Linked DNA regions of Homo sapiens. The protein of the gene in region 1 interacts with the protein of each later gene in a pairwise test. Each region holds a gene or a part of one and is shown on either strand. Other genes may lie near its edges.

Region 1 (5,527 bases):
GGCTCACACGGGGCCTCTCCCAGCAGCATTCCACAAGTGCAGGGCCTGTGGGGTGTTCAGCCTCCACCCTCCATTCTGTTTTGGCAGCTGAAGGGTGAATGTGGAGCCCTTCTCCTTGTCCTCCTCTTATAGAAATTCCACCATTAGGGACTTCCTCCCCTTGGGTGAAGCTTTGCTCACTCTGGGTCCCTTTGAAACCGCGGATCCAGGGATTTTTCTTCCAGCCACGTGCCTACTCTAAGAGTCCCGGTGACGCGGTGAAGTTCTTTAAAGGACCAGACATCCCTGAAGTCCTTACAGGGACATCCCCTTACAGGGACGAATCCATTTCCTGGAATGTGGGCAAGGAAAGGCAGCCACTTCCTGCCTCTCAAAACTCTGGCTGGTGGCTGGGTGCAGTGGCTACGTCTGTCATCTCAGCACTTTGGGAGACTGAGGTGGGAGGATCACTTGAGGCCAGGAATTGGAGACCAGCCTGGGCAACATGGTAAGAGTCCAGCTCTACAAAACACACACGCACACACACACACACACACACACACACACACACACACACACCAAAAACAACAGAAAACATTAGCCAGGCATGATGGCACATGCCTCTGGTCCCAGCTACTCGAGGGGGCTGAGTTGGAAGGATTGGATTGCTTGAGCCCAGGAGGTCGAGCCTACAGTAAGCCGTGCAGGAGGTCGGGCTACAGTGAGCTGTGCTTGTTGACCAGGCTTGTCCAGCCTGGTCAGCAGAGCGAGACCTTGTCTCAAAAACAAAACAAAAACAAAACAAGAAGATCCCCCTCCCCCCAAACTCTGCCCAGTGGCCTGACTACCAACATCCATATACAAGACAGGAGTAGGGTCAACTCCTTCCTATCAGTCACCCCTTAGTGAGAATCAGCTGGCCAAGGGGCCTCCTGCAGAGCTGATGTGTGCTTGAATGCCTAGGGCCCACGGGGATGGGGTGTGGAAGCTTCAAGCTGGGACTCAAAACAGAGTTGCCAAGGGAAGAGGAGTGGGCGACCCGAGCCCCTGTCATCAGTACTTTCACTTGGGCTGTCAGTTTTGATCTGCTTGCTTGTCCGTTTTGTCTGGGGCAGGGTCGGGTAGTTGTTTAGAGGAGGCTCAGAGGTTAAAAGTCTCAGGCAAGTCATGTCAGGGGTTGGGAGCCAGTGCTGCTGTGGCAGCAGTACAGAGAAGAAAAGATAAGCTCCCCAGCCCCGCAAGAACCTCAGCCCTGAGGCCGGAGACACAGATCTGGCCCCTTGCAATCAAGTCATTTGCATCTGACCTGGGGTCAGGCCCCTCCATGCAGGAAGTCCCCTTTCTTATCTGCAAGTCAGAGGAGGGTGAGTTCCCCAGGCTTTCAACAGGTACTTCCCCCGGCAGCGGGAAGCCCAGGAGCCCGATCAGGACCGAGGATCTCACCCCAACCCCTGCGTTTGGGCCCCGGGGTCAGCTGAAAGTTCCCCTGGAATAAACACTTCGGGTCCAGCATGCCCCTCTCCCCACTCCCGCAACGATCTTCCGAATTCAGACGCAGAGAGGGCCCGCGAGCAGAGCGGGAGGTGGTCGGAGGCGGAGGAAGGGGAGATGGGCAGAGGGTGGGCCCAGGGACCCCCAGACAAGGCCTGGACGCGGGGTTGGAGGAGGAGGCGGAGGCTGGCGGGAGGCGAGGGGCAGCCCGCAGAGGAGACGCGCTTCTCGGCAGCAACGGCGTCTGGAGCCGGGAGGGGCGGAGGTTTGGGGAGGGGGAGGGAGGGCGGGGGAGGGGAGGGACGGACGGCGGCGGAGGTGGGGCCGGCGGGCTGGCGGGCGTGCAGCTGCCGCCGGCGTCGCGGGGCTCCAGGCTGCGGGGCGGACGTAGCGCCGAGCGATCCACCGCGGAGCCGCGCGAGGCCGCCCGAGCCCCAGCCCCGGCCCCGGCCCCAGCCCCGGCCCCGGCCCCGGCCCCGGCCCCGGCCCCGGTCCCGGCCCCGAGCCCCGAGCGAGCGCCGCCGCCTCGCGCTGCGGGTCCCCGGACGCGCCGCCACCGCCGGGAAGGCAGCCGGCGCCGGGCAAGTTGCGAGCGCGCCCCTCCGACCAGGAAAGTTTCCCCCCGGCCGCCGGCGGGATTTGGCGCGGGGTCCGGCAGCCGCCGCTGGAAGGTATGGGGCTCCGCACCTCCGTGCCCTCCGCACGCCGCCGCCGCGCCCCCGGGGACCTGGGGACCCCCCCGCGCGCCGCCCCGGGGGTGCTGCTGGACGCGGCGGGGAATTGGGGTGGAGTAGGGATCCCAGGACGGAAGCCCGGCAACCAAGTTCCACTCAAACTAGCACGCGGGGGCTGGGGGGCCGGGGACGGTCTCCACCCCGTGCCTGCCCGGAGTCCGCTGAGGGCCGGGGGCTGCGCCCAGGACAGGTGCAGAGCCGGTGGGCTCCCAGTGCTCCGGGTGGAGGAGTGGGGGCTTCTGGAGAACGGCGCGGGGTGGCAGGTGTGGTTACAAGGTTCGGGGTTTCGGCCAGGGCTGCGCCCGGAAAGGGGCTGCTCGCCACGCCACCCGGTAAGACAGTGAGGGACCAGGGACTGGGAGCGGCGATCGGGGCCGGGAGGGCTGTGGGGCCCGGCAGCTGCATGGAGGGCGGGCTGCCTTTGGGGTCCCTGGCAGCGGGGCGGGGCGGGGCGGAGGCGCCACTCGTTCCTCCAGGACCCCCCTTATTCCTTAGGTGTGTGCGGTTTGGGGAAGTGGAGACTCCATGGAGTGCTGGGTGGGTGGGAGGCTCGGGCACGTCCAGATTTAGGGGGCAGTGGGAGCCAGTTGGGACGGTGCTCGGCTCGGGTGGGATCGCGCCGGCTCCGGGTCCTGCTGGAGTGAGGTGACTGGGCTCCCGCCAGGGGGCGCACTGCCCCGGCCCTCGCCAGCAGGAAGCGCGTTCTGGCTCCTGCGAGGCAACCGCGCCGACATCCAGGACGCAGGGACCACAGACACCCAACTTACGCGGGGTCCCGCCCCGAGGAGCCCGCCCTACACTAGCCAGACGGGGGAGCGGGACCAAGAGTGAGGCGAAAGGTTCACAGTTATAACTGCGCCGTGGGCTGGAAAGGCTAGGAGTCAGGATGTGATTTTTCTCGGGAAGGCTGCCAGGGCAAATGGATGAGTAAGAAATTTACCCCCAGAAAAAGATGTAAGAAACTACAACTGCGAATTGGTGCAGAGAGAGTGGGTTGGGGAATTAACTTTTTGACGGTTTTTGGAGTTGCAGAAACCCAAACCCCAAAATGCATGCACCCTTTTTGTAAAAGTTGCACCTTTGTTTCCTGGATCTGGTCGAATCCCTGTCTGGTGAAGGCAGGATGGGGGTCTTGGGGTATCCTCTCTCTGGGCACAAGTAAACTGGGAGGCACAGGGCGGGCGGTGGGGGATGGGGCCTTAAAGACTTCAGCAGTCCAGGCAGAAGTGTTAAATTTCTCAGCAGTCAACGAGCCCTGGCCCCCACCCTCATCCCCTGGGTCTGTGGTCTCTAGGCCACATTCTTCTGGTCATTTCACAATTATTGGTGGAAATCTGCCCTGGGTCCCAGTTGTCTGGCCTCAGGGTCCCTGTATGTTGAGTCTGTGTGTCTGTGCCTTGGGAAGTCGACGGCTGCTGGCATCTGTGAGGACTGTCATCTTTGTCATGTGCGGGGCTAACATTGAAGGGACATTGGAGGGACTATTGCCTCATCTTTCTCTCCAGTTCCCTCCCTCCTCCCATCACCCCAAGTGAGTGCAAAGGAGCAAATCATAGATTGTGCCGTGGCCTCATTGTGGTTGGTAGAAGTTTTCATCTTTCTCTTAGCTGGTAACCTGTGCTCCTTGGGCAGCCCCCCTCCTGCTCCCATGTCCTTAATGTCCCTTACAAAGGTGGGGGAAATGGGGGTCCCTGAAAGAGATGAGGTTCCTCTGTTCAATGTAGTCTGCCACATGTTTTTGTTGGATGCTACTGAAATGCTCCAGGACAAAGTTGCCATAAAGACAGATCAGCATGATTTTTATTTTGAATAGAAGAGGAGGAGGAGAGAGGAGAGAAAGGAAAGGGTGGAGAAGCCTGCTGTGTCTGGATAGGTCTTTAAGACATTCCAGGGGGCTGGAAAACAAAAGAAGTTTTTTTTTGTTGTGTTTTGCTTTTAGTGACTCTTGTTTTTCTGTGGAGGGAAGCCTGCATGGACCAGCCCTGCCTTGGAACCTGCCTGGGAGCATGGGGCCCCTAGAAGGCCAGCGTTTCCCGTGTTCTGTCCCTCCCCTCTTCTCCCTACCCCCACCCCACTTTTCCTGAATTGGAGAGGGAGTTGAAGGTCCCCAAGGGCTACTAAAGTCTGTGTTTGGGCTTAAAGTATCTTGTGTGGGCTCAGTCTTCTCCCAGGCAAACTCCAAGATCTCTGATTTAGCAACATTTCAAGTCTTGGGCACTCTGTTTCCTTGTCTCCCTTGTCCCCAAACCCATTCAAACAGCCAGTATATGTGGTGCTTTTACCCAACCCCAGTCTGAAATGGTAGCACATCATTGAAAGCTCCAGGACACTTTCTAGAAGCCGAAGTTAGTTGGGTTTAGGATACCTTGGGGTTGGGTTTAGGACACCTTGGGCTGAGTCCAGGAAGGAACCCTCTGCCCTTTAAAAAATGAGATTTTAATGGTCTGAGGGGTGTGTTGGAGGGCAGGGTGCTGGGTAGGGACACAGGATTAATTCAAGGATGTGTGGGAGGGGGTGCCAGGAAGAGGGAAAATAGCAGATTTGAAATCTAGCTCTTCTGAGTCATCCGTGTGGCCTTGGGCAGGTTATTTCCCCTCTTGAGCCTGCTTCCTCCGTCTGTAAAATGAATATGTTGGCTGAGGAGATTCTGAGCTATCTTGCAACTTAGAGCAGGAGAGTCTAACCTTTTAGGGGGCTGGGCAGCCCTGCTCCATTCCTTCTGCCTTCCATTCAGTGGAAGGTGCCTCTCCGGGCTGGCTTGCCTCTCTCTGCCCGCCTGTACACAGCAAAATCCTGCGTTGAGTGAATGCAGCAGCTTCAGAAACCAGCTCCTGCCATCAGAGCTGAAGGACAAAGTGCCCAGCAGTTTTGGGTAGAGAGGGGAATGTCTGTAACCAGTCCCTGCTGGGAGCCCCATGTTAGTCTGCAGGCTCGCTCCCCACTCTTCTTGGGAAGAGCCCTTTCAGTTCCTGGGGTGCAGGTTTTAGGGACCTCTCCCTTTCCAGAGGGCTGCTTTTCTGGTCTATTTCATCAGCCATTGAGAGGGAAAATCAGGAACATTTGTTCATGCTCAGCTGGGGTGCAGCACAGGGAGGGGGCCTTGGAAACCAGCACTCTGGTCCCACTGAGCAGATGACGCCCATTGATCAGGCGTTTCTACCACCTGATGCCATTGAGCAAATGTACCAGCTTGGGCTCCTCCTGCCACCCGGGCTGGCACCTTGGACCTGCATTAGTGCTCCATCTGAGGGAGTGGGGGTGGATCATGAAACACTTTTTTTTTTTTTTTTTGAGAGACAGTCTTGCTCTGTCGCCCAGGCTGG
Region 2 (4,897 bases), on another chromosome or scaffold:
GGAAGAATAGCTAGTAGATGCTGGGCTTAATACCTAGGTGATGGGATGATCTGTGCAGCAAACCACCATGGCACACGTTTACCTATGTAACAAACCTGCACATCCTGCACATGTACCCCTGAACTTAAAAGTTGAAGAAAAAAAAATCTAAAGATGAGGCTATGTCCTGTATTTCTGTGGCATTCTGGTTTCAAAATATTTTCTCAGTTATTTCATTGTCCTTTAACCTTCCTTGTGAGATAAAAAGAGGAATTATGATCACATTTTAGAGCCAGCCAGGCATGGTGGTGGGTGCCTGTAGTCCTAGCTACTTGGGAGGTTGAGGTGGGAGGAACCCTTGAGCCCAGGAGTTAAAGACCAGCCTGAACAACATAGTGAGACTTCATCTTTCTACTAAAAAAAATTAGAGCTGTGGAAAAGAGGCTTACAGAATTTGAATTAGAAAGAAACTTTTAGGATTACAAATTTTGATCTATAGTTTGAGTAAGATTACATGGCCTGCCAAACAGTCAGTTCTCAGGCATCCTGTCTCCAAAGTTGCTCAGACATCACTAGGTCATTGAACCATCATGGGACCCTGATGAGCTTGATGTAGACAACTTTAATTTTTTCCTCTGACACATAGTTAGAAGGAATATTTTGATGAGCTGTGGGGAGAGATGGTAGGACACATTGGAGATGTCAAAAACTTGGTTCTACAGAAGTGGGTCGAGTTAATTTCAGGGATTTTGTTTACTAAGCAGAATATGCAAGCTTCGGGGCCAGAATGACTTGTTCAGTACTCTTAAGAACCATGGACATGGCCTAACATATATCCAAACATTTGGATGACCCAAACACAATGGCCAATATTTGATATTTGCTTTTAAGGAAGTGTTTAGTTCTCTTTTCTAAGTATTTATCTTGACTATCTGTAATTTCTGATGTTTGTCAACCTGGACTCTAAAGCCAATATAAATTACAAAATTAAAGCCCAACCAAAGTTTAACTTTAACCTTTTATCCTTGCTGCCACAAGACATCAAGCAGGCCAAGAGGATTGGTGCTCTGTATGAAATTGTTCTTTTCCTTCAGACCTTTACATGTGTGCTGGTGGCTTTGCTATATTAAATATGAACAGACACTGAAACTCTGTCACAAAGAAGCAATAGCGTTCTATGTTTTAACTCACAGGCCAATTCTGACTAGATGATGACAGATGGTGGGTGCTCTGTGTTGTGAGAGATTAGGAACCATGTCAAGATCATCAGGAAAGAGTACTGTGATTGTAGGAGATGGAAGAGGTGGTGTATGTGCCCTATATTGGCCTCTTTCTATAGAGCATACCCTCAATTAAGGTTGCTTCTTGCCTCCATTCTGAGTTCTCTTAGGTCTTCGGCTAGTTTTTTGAGAGCCTGTTATTTGTATGGCTGAATGAGAAGAAAGTAGATTGTTCCTTAGAGTCTAGTTTGTTTGTTTAGGGTTGGAATGCTCTGTAATTATAGCTGGTACTGTTCTTGGAAAATGCGCATGGCAAGATTGGGTATATATTTGGTGCCTTATAGTTTGCTGGAGATGGCTTTGAAAGGCAATGACACTGTGAGGAGCTGAAGAGAGAATGGAGTGTTTACCTCATTATTTTGGCTGGTATGCTCTTTTTCCACAGGGTTCATGCTCACGAGTTTTGATCTATGAAGATAACAGCCAGGACAGAAATTGAACAAAGTGCACTGAAATATTCATACTACACTATGGTTATTTTAAAAAAGCTTTATATTCTAAATCTGTACTGTCCAATATTGTAACTACTGTCTACCTATAGCTATTTAAATTAATTAAAGTTAAATTAATTTCCTCAGTTGAGTACATCTTTTATGTACTCAATTGCCATATGTAGTTAGTTTTACCTACTAACTAGCACAGAAAATTCTACTGGGCAACCTTTTCTAGAATCTTGGCTTAACAGTTAAGCCATAAACCAATGTTCAGCAGGGATCTTGAGTGACTTGAAGGTGTCCTTTAGGGGCAAGGACCTACAAGTCCTAGGACCCTGGACTATATATATATAGAGAGAGGCTATATGCAGTTTTGATCTCTTGTTCTTGATCTAAGGATTTAAAAATATTTCATAAATAGAAATACTTCTTGACTGCATTAAGATTTAACTTACAGAGGGGGTCAAGAAATGGAGATGAGGTTTTTGGTTTGGATTTCTCACCATTTAGACTCTTGACAAACTCATTGTACTTTGAGGAGTGCTTTCCCATCTCTAATTTTAAATGTTCGTAGTTCAATACAGTGTACAGTTCTGATTTATATAATGTGGTAGCTGTAGTATGAGTCTAGAGATTAGTTTCATGCCTATCCCTTATGGTTGGGTGTCCATATATTTGGGGGAAGTGAGGATGGTATTAATGAAAAGGCCTTTCTGTGATATATAAGGAATACCCTACTTATCAAGGTGACTGACCACCAACTCTTTCTAAAGTACATGTTTTTACTCTTAATATCAACCCGAATAATAATGTGATAATGTGATAACATTACGAAGGGAGATGTGTTTCTGTGGTCTTTTTAGAAGGATGGGAGAATGACTGGAAGTTTTAAGTTGGTGTGATCTACTGGGGTCAACCAGATCACTAACAGAGGGCAAAGATATGTGGCGTCGGGACTCATTCAATTCCAAATAGAAATTGGTCTGAGAACTGTTTGCTCTGACTCAGGCTGAGATGGAGTTTCTACCAAAACCAGGATGTTCCTTTGCCAAAGCTCACACTTCTCTCTCAAGGAACAGAGCCTCTAGTTCTTCTTCTATTTTCTTCAACGTTTCCTGGTACTTCTTCAAAGAGAAACAAAGAAAGCCACAGTTACTACTTAGAAGGTTTACAATTTTTCTAAGCATAATAAGCACTTGTTATTACATGATACCATGAATGCTTGGTATTCCCACTGCCACTTTCTCTGCTTTCATAAAACTCACCCCCCTACTACTCTTGATCTCTCACTATGCCTTACCACTGGACAGGTTTCTGGGCATCATTGACATTATAAATAGCAGAAGTGTGAATTATTAACTTAACAGCACAGAGAGTGGGAGAGCAGGGCAGGAATTCCCAGGGAGACAAAGACAAATAGAGTGATATTGATAGTGAGGTGGGGTGCTGATGACCTTAAAGTATCCTAGTAGTGCCACCTTGAACTGTTGAAATTGCTCTGGACAGTAGTCTTTGAAAATCCTTGTTCTATTTCATCCTGTACCTTAATAAACCCTTTGCTATCCCTTTACCAAGAAGCTCTACCTTTATGTAGAGGGCTTGATCTTCACAGAGCTGGGTCACAAATGCATACTCCTTCATTACCTAGGAAATCAAAATTTAGTTGTAAATATATTTCGGTAAATTGCTATAAGAACACAAGCATACTTGTTTTCTCTTGGGTCCCAGGTCCTAAATGTGGTTTTCTAATTGTTCTAAATATGTTTTCTTTTTTGCTGTACAGATAAATGTATTTCCTTTTTTTAGGGTAAAAAAGCTAAATGGGAGTTATTGGTCAAAGGTGGAATTTGGGGGCAGTTGGGAGAGGAATAGATAGATAACTAATATTTGCGAGATACAAACTGTAGAGTGTATTCTGTAAAAAAATGTTTGAAGAGAAAGCAACCTCAGGGATTGTGCTTATCTTCCTTTTCTTTACCCCTCCCTAGCCCCATCATGGTCTTGGATCTGGAACCTTAATGTAAATCAATCACTTGAGAAATAGATTGCCTGACCAAAGATCACATTTCCCTTTTTGGGGAGAAGTCACATTGAAGTTCCTGCTGTTACCTTGAGCAGCTCCTTCTCTTGGCATGCATAGGAAGCTTCCAGCTGTTGTAACTTAACCTAAAGAAAGCAAAAGAGACTGCTAACTTGGCAAGGTAAAAGCTGTGCAGGAATGGAATGCTGTCACCAAGGTGGCCTCACGAGCTGTGAGGAGCCTCAGGGCCATGACTTCACACGTCTCCTGATAGAGGAATTAAGCCACCCAGCACCGTTTGCAGCTGCTTGGTAAACTTGCTCTTTTATATTCCTTACCTTTTAGTCTTCATCTGGTGCTAGCTTCACCCCTAAACTTCAATTCTGAGCTTCCTACTCTTACTTAGCCATTTCTCTTAAAAATAATACCAGTTTTGAAAAACTTCACTCTTCCTTTTCCTTTTAATATAGTCAGTCAGACTCTAAGGTGTTTGTTCACTCCTTTCTCCCTCCCTGTATGCCTTGCTCACCCTTTTATTTCCTTCAATACTTGGCAAAAGACCATTCTATATCAGCTGCTATGCTGGAGTGAAGCATGTGTGTATCAGGTGGCAGGGGGTAGTACTTAGGATACAGTAGTAGACAGGATGGACCAGCTTTCCACCCTTGCAGAGCTGGCATTCTGGTAGGGAGACACAACAAATACATCTACATGATAATGGTATGTGCTATGAAGGAAAAAAAATTAATGTTTAAAGATAGTGATGGTAGTGGTGGTGTGAGAGGAGGTGGTAGGTGGTTGGCAAAGGCCTCCCTGATGTGATGATACTTGAGCTAAAGTCTAAATGATAAATGCTAGCTAAATGGAGATTTGGAAGAAATATGTTCTCTGTGAAGGGTATGGCAAGGGCCAAGACCATGAGGTTATCACAGATTTGGCTTATATGAGGGAGTTGTGTGGCCAGAGCATAAGGGAAATTGGTAGGTAGGGCCGAGACAGGGTGGGATAAGGTAGACAGGGGCTAGATTGTGCAGGGCCTTGTGGCTTCTAAAAGGATTTCGGTTCTTCTAATTGCAGTGAGAAGGCAGGAGAGGCTTGAAGTCTAAAGACACAATCTGATTTGTGTTTTTAGAGAATAGCCTTTTCTGTGTCTGGAAAAAAGAATTGTTTGGGAGTGAGAGTAG

Evidence for each region.
Region 2: the proteins of TSPAN18 (region 1) and TMCO5A interact in a two-hybrid assay, tested with the Homo sapiens proteins (one large-scale study listed by BioGRID).

Annotation. Positions count from the first base shown.
Region 1 is NC_000011.10:44,725,147-44,730,673, forward strand, and holds the start of TSPAN18 (tetraspanin-18), read left to right. Parts: upstream 1-1,815; 5' UTR 1,816-2,141; intron 2,142-2,249; exon of another isoform or gene 2,250-2,536; intron 2,537-5,527. UniProt on the Homo sapiens protein: Plays a role in the cell surface localization of ORAI1 and may participate in the regulation of Ca(2+) signaling and the VWF release in response to inflammatory stimuli.
Region 2 is NC_000015.10:37,940,111-37,945,007, reverse strand, and holds part of TMCO5A (transmembrane and coiled-coil domain-containing protein 5A), read right to left. Parts: intron 3,860-4,897; coding exon 3,803-3,859; intron 3,338-3,802; coding exon 3,278-3,337; intron 2,818-3,277; coding exon 2,753-2,817; exon of another isoform or gene 2,721-2,752; intron 1,668-2,720; coding exon 1,610-1,667; intron 1-1,609.